Homo sapiens: one gene and its partner. The protein of the gene in region 2 purifies or fractionates together with the protein of the main gene of each other region. This does not show direct contact. Each region holds a gene or a part of one and is shown on either strand. Other genes may lie near its edges.

What was found. Proteins that work in one complex are often made in the same cells at the same time.
Region 1: the proteins of RTN4 (region 2) and CYB5R3 purify together in Homo sapiens (affinity purification with mass spectrometry; 5 studies listed by BioGRID and IntAct, with this or other methods). This does not show direct contact.

Annotation. Positions count from the first base shown.
Region 1 is NC_000022.11:42,647,848-42,651,590, reverse strand, and holds the start of CYB5R3 (NADH-cytochrome b5 reductase 3), read left to right. Parts: upstream 1-2,198; 5' UTR 2,199-2,275; coding exon 2,276-2,296; intron 2,297-3,743. UniProt on the Homo sapiens protein: Catalyzes the reduction of two molecules of cytochrome b5 using NADH as the electron donor.
Region 2 is NC_000002.12:55,048,353-55,052,095, forward strand, and holds the start of RTN4 (reticulon-4), read right to left. Parts: upstream 2,100-3,743; 5' UTR 1,949-2,099; coding exon 1,393-1,948; intron 1,340-1,392; exon of another isoform or gene 1,206-1,339; intron 805-1,205; exon of another isoform or gene 727-804; intron 315-726; exon of another isoform or gene 194-314; intron 1-193. UniProt on the Homo sapiens protein: Required to induce the formation and stabilization of endoplasmic reticulum (ER) tubules. They regulate membrane morphogenesis in the ER by promoting tubular ER production.

The DNA of each region.
Region 1 (3,743 bases), on a different chromosome or scaffold from region 2:
TGCAGTGAGCCTGGCAACAGAGCAAGACTCCGTCTCAAAAAAGAAAAACCAACCAACCAACCAAACAAACAAAAAAAACAGTAGGTCAGGTGGGTGGGTAGGCAGACGGGCATGGTGGCTCATGCCTGTAATCCCAGTGCTCCGGGAGGCTGTGGTGGGAGGATGGCTTGAGCTGCAGTGAGCTGTGACTGCATCACTACACTCCAGCCTGGGCATCAGAGCGAGATCTCTTCTCTGGGTAAATAAACCCAGTGAGTCACTCCCTCAGCTACCTAGATCCTGCAGGGCTCCCCATTCTCCTTGACATTCCAGTTCTTTCCACCCGGGGCTCCACATTGCCTCCCCAACGTCACATCACACCCCAGCTCGGCTGTATCAGCCCCTCTAACCTTGCCCATCAGGCCTCTGTTCACCTGTCTCCACCTCCAGGCCCTGCCAGCAAGGCGCTTCTCCCTTTCTCTGCCTGGTCTGTGCCACGTTGCCTGAACACACAGCCCACCCCATCCCCTCAGAGCACCAGGAGCTCACATCTGGGTCCAAGACCCTACCAGGAGAGCAAGGCAAGAGAATGACGCTAAGGCCCAGCATGAGCCTACACAGAGAAGGTGCCCACTGTCTGTCAAATTCATCCATTCAACAAGTATTTAGGCTGCTCATCGTGGCTCACGCTTATAATCCCAGCACTTTGGGAGGCCAAGGTGGGAGGATGGCTTGAACCCAGGAGTTCCGGACCAGCCTGGGCAACATAGTGAAACCCGTCTCTACAAAAAAATGCAAAAATGGCCGGGCGCGGTAGTTCCCACCTGTAATCCCGGCACTTTGGGAAGCCGAGGCAGGTGGATCACCTGAGGTCGGAAGTTCGAGACCAGCCTCACCAACATGTTGAAACACCGTCTCTACTAAAAATACAAAATTAGGCCGGGCGCGGTGGCTCACGCCTGTAATCCCAGCACTTTGGGAGGCCGAGGCGGGCGGATCACGAGGTCAGGAGATCGAGACCATCCTCGCTAACACGGTGAAACCCCGTCCCTACTGAAAATACAAAAAATTAGCCGGGCGCGGTGGGGTGCCTGTAGTGCCAGCTACTCGGGAGGCTGAGAATGGCGTGAACCCTGGAGGCGGAGCTTGCATTGAGCCGAAATGGCGCCACTGCATTCCAGCCTGGGGGACAGGGCGAGACTCTGTCTCAAAAAAAAAAAAAAAAAAAAAAAAAAAAAGATTAGCTGGTTAGCCAGATGTGGTGGCACATGCCTGTAATTTCGGGAGGCTGAGGCAGGAGGATCTGTTGAACCCTGGAGGCGGAGTTTGCGGTGAGCCGAGATCGCGTCAATGCATACCAGCCTGGGCAACAAGAGCGAAACTGCGTCTCAAAAAAAAAAACAATTAGCCGGACGTGGTGGCATGTGCCCAGCTACTCAGGAGGTTGAGGCAGGAGGAACACTTGAGCCTGGGAGGTTGAGGCTAAAGTGAGCTGTGATCAGGCTCCTGCATTCCAGTCTGGGCAAGAGTGAGACCCTGCTTTACCAAAAAAAAAAAAAAAAAAAAAGGTATTTATTGAGCACCTACTATATGCTAGGCTCTGTGTGGCTAGGCTCTGGGGATGTACGGGACTTCAAACCAGATAGGGCCTTGCCCTCCGGGAGCGCACAGTCCACTGGGATGGGGTGGGAGTGGGGGAAACACGCAGGAGGCCTTCAGCTAAGTGGGACAAAGATCACTCCACAGTGGGACAATGGCGTGGGGAGCGGAGGCGCCGCCGGCGAGGAGGCTCCGGGCGGGCCGTGCTGAGACCGCAGCATTTAACCCGGCCCGAGGCAGCTGGGAACAGTGCTGCCCAGGGAACTACAAATTCAAAGGCCCGGGGAAGGGCCGCGCTGAGCAGCTGCAGGCACAGGCCCAGGCCAGGCCAGGCAGGACCGGCCCCTGCAGTCTCGGAGGCCGGGGGAAGATTCCGCCTCTTATTCTCGCTCCCATCCGGGGGGCGCCATCTTGCTTCCTTTATGGCGGCGAACGAGGCCCAGAGAGGCCACCGTCCCGCGCGGGGCAGCACAGCGGCGGGAGAGCTCGGAGCGCAGAGGGCCGCATCCCCAGTTCCCAGTCTCCATCCCCGGCAGAAGCAGGCGGAGCGACCCGGTCCCCGCCCCCGCGCCCGCCCCGCCCCGCGCGCCCGCCTGGCCCCTCGGCCCCGCCCCTGCTCCGGAGTGACGCGGGCCCGGGCGCGACGGTCTCGGCGGCGGCGGCGGCGGCGACAGAGCGAGCGCGGCGCGGGGCCACCATGGGGGCCCAGCTCAGCACGGTAGGCGGGGAGGGGGCGCCGGGGCCGCGGGGCGTCGCGAGGGACTGGGACCCGGCGGCGAGGGGGCGGGCTGGCCTGCGGGAGGTGACGCGGGACCCGGGCCGCACCCGGCCGCACCCACTTCGCCCGCCCAGCCCGCCGCGCCCCACCCCACCCCACAAGGGCCTGGGCGAGCTACGTGGTGACCGCTACTTACGCCCTGGCAGTCTGCAGCGGGGACCCAGCCCTCCTGCCCGGGGGGCGCGCCAGAGCCCAGCACCCGGGGGCACCTGGGCCCTGCCCTGGCCGCCGTGGGGCCTTGGCTGCTGGAGGGACCCGTGGTTGTGAGCGTGTGTGCCGCTGAGTGTGAGTGTGTGAGCGAGCGTGTGAATGGCTTGAGAGTGAATGTGTGTGTGAGTGTGACCGTGGGTGTGAAGGGCGGGCATGGAAACGTGTGATGGGGTGTGTGTGTGTGTACGGGAGTATGTGAATGGGCGATGTCACTGACTGCGACTGAACGTGTGTGTGTGTGCGATGTCACTATGTCAGAGGGTTTTGCACGTTTAGCAACAAGGAACAGAACCCGGATGACACGGGGGCATCCTCCCAATGCTCAGTGGGCCAGGCTCCCATCAAGGCCAGGCTCCCACTGACCCTGCAAGCTGTGCTGGGGACCTCACACTTTGCGGTGTCAGTGCTGTTTGCCCCATTTCACAGATGGGGAAATGCAAACTAGTCTTGGCCACCGTCCCACAACGCTGCCGCCGGAAGGAGCCTGCTCCATGGGGTTTCAAAGTCCACTCTGCTGCTGTCACTCCTGGGCTGGCCTAGAGCCACCTTCCCTTCCCCCCAGGCCACCTCCTCTCCCCAGTTTCTCAAAAGTTGACCATGGTGAGGCTGGAGGCTTGAGTCTGTGTGGACATGTGGAGGCTGCGGCTGCAGAGGGCAGCTCTCCTGTCAACTGTGACCCGCTAGGCGTGGGGAGGCTGGCACAGGAGGAATCAGCCCAGTGCTCCTCCACCTCCACCTCTACCTCTATGCCTGGCATCTGCCACTTGGAGGGCACCTGGGTCCTCCCTCCTTGGGGAGGACCTGGAGTCTCCTCCTTGGGGATCCAGGCAAAAGGCCTCTTGGCTTGGGTGGTTGCTAAGGAAAGTGTGGCCCAACCCAGAACTTCGGGATGTTCAGACCCCAGGCAACCTTGGCCAGGGTGAACCTGTGGGCATCACCCCAACCTCCATGCAACACCCGGCCCATTTTTCCCCAGAAAGCATCTGCCTCCTTTATTGTTGAAATGTCCTGCCTGTGTCTCTAAAGCTTCCCCTGGTCTCCACCCAACCCTTCCCTGCTGTTTTTGGTGGTGTTCCATACCTTCCAGCTGGTGGTTGGATTTATGGCCACGTCCCCTGCACCTGGCTGCTCCATACATTTCTTTTTTCTTTTTTCTTTTTTGAGAAGAGTCTCTCAC
Region 2 (3,743 bases):
TCAATAATAAATCAACCTTAGCTTACTGTATCTTTTCTATTTTATAAACTTTTTGGCTCTTTTGTAATAACGTTTAACTTAAAACACAAACACATTTTAAAGCTATAGAAAAGAAATTTTATATTCTTATTCTATAAGCTTTTTTCTATTTTTTTTTTAACTTTTGTTAAAAACTAAGATACAAACGCATTACCCTAGGCCTACACAGGGTCAAGATCAAGACGTCGCTAGGCGGCAGGAATTTTTCAGCTCCATTACAACCTTATGGAGCCACCGTTGCAAATGCGGTCTGTCCTTGACCTAAACGTCGTTATGAGGCACGTGACCGTATTTTGATTCTGTAACCTAAAACATATCCTTCTGAAAAACAGTATTTCTAACCAATATATATGAAAATGTCTGTCTCAAAACATTTCTCTGTGTCTCATGGTAAATCTGCCACGAGTTCAATTAGCCAATTCCTGGCAAGGAATCCACAGGTTTTCCCTTCTTTAGGAATGTCAACCATTTTGCCTTTTATTTTTTTCTGTAAGATTCAATTATGATGCACTAAGAGGCTGGGCCAAGTCCACACTAACAGCAATTCCTCCGACCCTGCAGCTGAAACCCCGGCAGAACTACGCCCCCTCGAACACAATGCCTAGATCCCCTTTCCCTGGCTCGGTTTAGCTGGTGGGGAGCAGTCCACATCACACCCCGGGGAGCTGGGCGGTGGCAGGACTTTACCAGAACTCTCTCCTTCCCATTTCTCCACGCACCACACCACTGGAGGCGCTCTCCCTTCACTGCGGTTGGGTCAATGTGGACGTTTTCCACTCGGCCAGCTCCCCACGAGCACAGGAGGAGGGGGAGGGGAAGCGCAAAGGGGCCACCCACGCCAGCCAGGAGGTGAGGAGGGAGCCCGGGGCAGAATGCAGGCCAACAGACCCGCAGCAAAACTGCACCTTTTCCAAAGGAGCAACCCAGACGGGTAGACAAAAGCACCTCCTAAAAATATCTGGGTGCCAAGGCCTTTCCTTCCTCACCTCGAAGCCCAACCAACCCGATAAATCCACAACCCTGGCTCTCGGGTATATACCCGGCTCCTACTACGGGTGGGTGCCTAACTTCCGAGAATCCGTACGCTGGGCATCACACAGGGTGAAAGTGGGAGCCGGGAGCGGTGCACGTGTTCCCCGAAACCAAGACGGACAATAAGAACAAACCCGGGCTCCAAGGGCCGCCCCACCCTTCTCCCCGCGCTTCCAACCAGACGGGGCGCCATCGCCCCGAAGTCCGCAGACAAAGCGCCCTCGGGGCGGAGAGGAGGGACCAGCCCAAAGCATCTGGGGCTGCACACAAAAGAGGGAGGGGCGCGAGGGGCGGCGCGAAGCGAGAGGTCGCGGCACTCACCCACTGAGCCCGAGGAGCCCCTGCGCTTGGGCGCGGCCGGGGTGGAGGGGGGCGCGGCGGGAGCCGGGGCTGGCGGGGTCCACACGGGCTCTGCCTGGGGGCTCACGCTGGCCGGGGGAGGAGGGGGAGGCCGGGCCGGAGGCTCGTCGTCCTCAGGGAGCTTGGAGGGCGAGACTGCGGCAGCAGACAGCGGGGATGGCGCGGGCACGGTCGACGACACCGGGCTCGGGTCCCAAGACGGCTGCCGCTCCGGGGCGACGGGGGGAGCGGCCGGCAGGGGTCCCCGGGGCGCCGGCGGCACGAAGTCATTTCCGAAGTCCATCAGGGGCGCGCCGGCGGCAGGGGCGGTGGGCACTGGGGCCGCGGACAGCCCGGCGGCGGGCTTCCTCTCCAGCACCTCCAGCTCCTCCAGGTCTTCGTCCTCGTCCTCCTCTTCCTCCTCCTCTTCTTCCTCCTCGTCCTCGGGCTCCCTCACGAACTGGTACTTGAACGCGGGCTGCGGCCGGGGTGGGCTGTCCGAGGACGAGACCAGAGGAGACTGGTCCAGGTCTTCCATGGCTGGAGGGTGGAGATGATGCTGCAGCTGCTGCCGCCGCCGCCGGGGCCGCGTCTCAGAGCCGCGGGCGGTTGTGGGGGTTGGGGAGGACTGAGAGGGGCTGGGCCGACTGAGCCGAGGGACCTACTGTGGTGACGGCTCCCGGAACAATGAGACTGCTCCTCCTGCCTCCGCGCCGGTGATGCGCCACCCGCCCTGTCCCCACTTGCCGCCGCCGCCCAGATGAGCTAGGAGTGAGGCCAGCGGACTCTCCGCCCAGTTTGGCGTGACTCACCCTCCCCAGGGGAGGGCAGGGACTGGCGCGGGAGGGAGAGAGCCAATCGGCTACAGGATCGAGAAGATAGGCGACCAGCCGGGCCAACAGAAAGGGAAGGAGATGAAAGTGGGTGGGGACTACGGCACTTCCTCTCTCTTACCGGCTGGGATTGCGTTCAATGGGCGGGGCTGAGAGCTGGGAGCTCCACCCCCACTTTGGGTAACCGTGAGTTGGGGTGGGGTCTTGGCCTTGCCCGCAGCTGGCGTCCGTATGTCGTTAGAGCACTGGGAAAGGGGGCGGGCTGCTGGCTGGGAGGGGTCGGCGCGGTTTCTGGCGCGCCACCGGAAGGGCGTTATCCTGGGGGAACTGAGAGTGGAAACTTTCCTCCCGGGAAAGGAAGAAACCCGACTGGAGAAAGGTATTAGCGGGACTGGGAAGTGGGCCCTAAGGATTTTTAAAGATTTTTGAAATAAAAGATTATTTGTTCACTCAAAGTTCCAAACTACATCACTACTACTACCACCCTAAAATAAGAAAAAAATTGTTTTTTGACAGTTAGGCTCACTCAGTCTAAACCGCAGCCCCCGAAATTGGGAGGAAAACAGCTGTGCTGAATTAACTAGGGATCTGGGGCCGACCATTTGAAAGTCTGCTCTTCTTCCAAAGAGAGTTTGGGGCCTTGCCTGCTGGACTCTTACATGGTAAGAGAGTGAGTCACCCAAAGAGAGAGGCAGCGGGGAGACAGGAAAGTGGAAATACAAAGATGCCTTGGAAAGCTAATTTGGTTCACGTTACATTTCAGTCACCTTAGGTTCATGAGTCAACATTTCGGATGATTCAGGCTTTCTGGGAGTCAGGAAGCCCCATAGTCATTGGTTTGATATGCAGGAATAAGCATGATCCCCATTCCACTTTTTATGAGGCTGGAGAGTTTAAAGAGAGTAGTTGCAGAACATCTTTGTAAGAATCAGGATCCTTTTATCTTTCTGATTTACCTTTCAAAAATATTCACTGCATGCCTACTCTGGAGGCCCTGGAGAGAAGAGGATAACCTGCTTTCAAGTTGCTCAAAGTCTAAATCTGTGCTGTACCTGACAGGTACTGGCTACTTGTGGCTACTGATTGAACACTCGGAATGTATGTAGCTAGGCTGAAATTAGATGTGCTGTAAGTGTAAAATGCGCACTGGATTTCAAGAATTAGTACCTCCGAAATGTAAAATATCTCAGCTTTCCTGTTGACTGAATGTTGAAATTGATATTTTGGATATATTGGGATAAGTATAATATTATTAAATTAATTTTACTTGTTCCTTTTAAAGCAGCTTCTAGAGTTTTTTAAATACATAATGGCTCACATTATATTTCTTTTGGACAGTGCTAGTCTAGATTAATAATTAAGAAAGTTTGATTGCCATGGGGAATCACTGGCAAATTCTTAGCTCCAACTAATTTATATTACTGTGGCTTAATTTGGGTATTAAAAAAGAAAAGTAAGAGTTGGAGGGAGGGATAAATAGGTGGAACACAGAAGATTTTG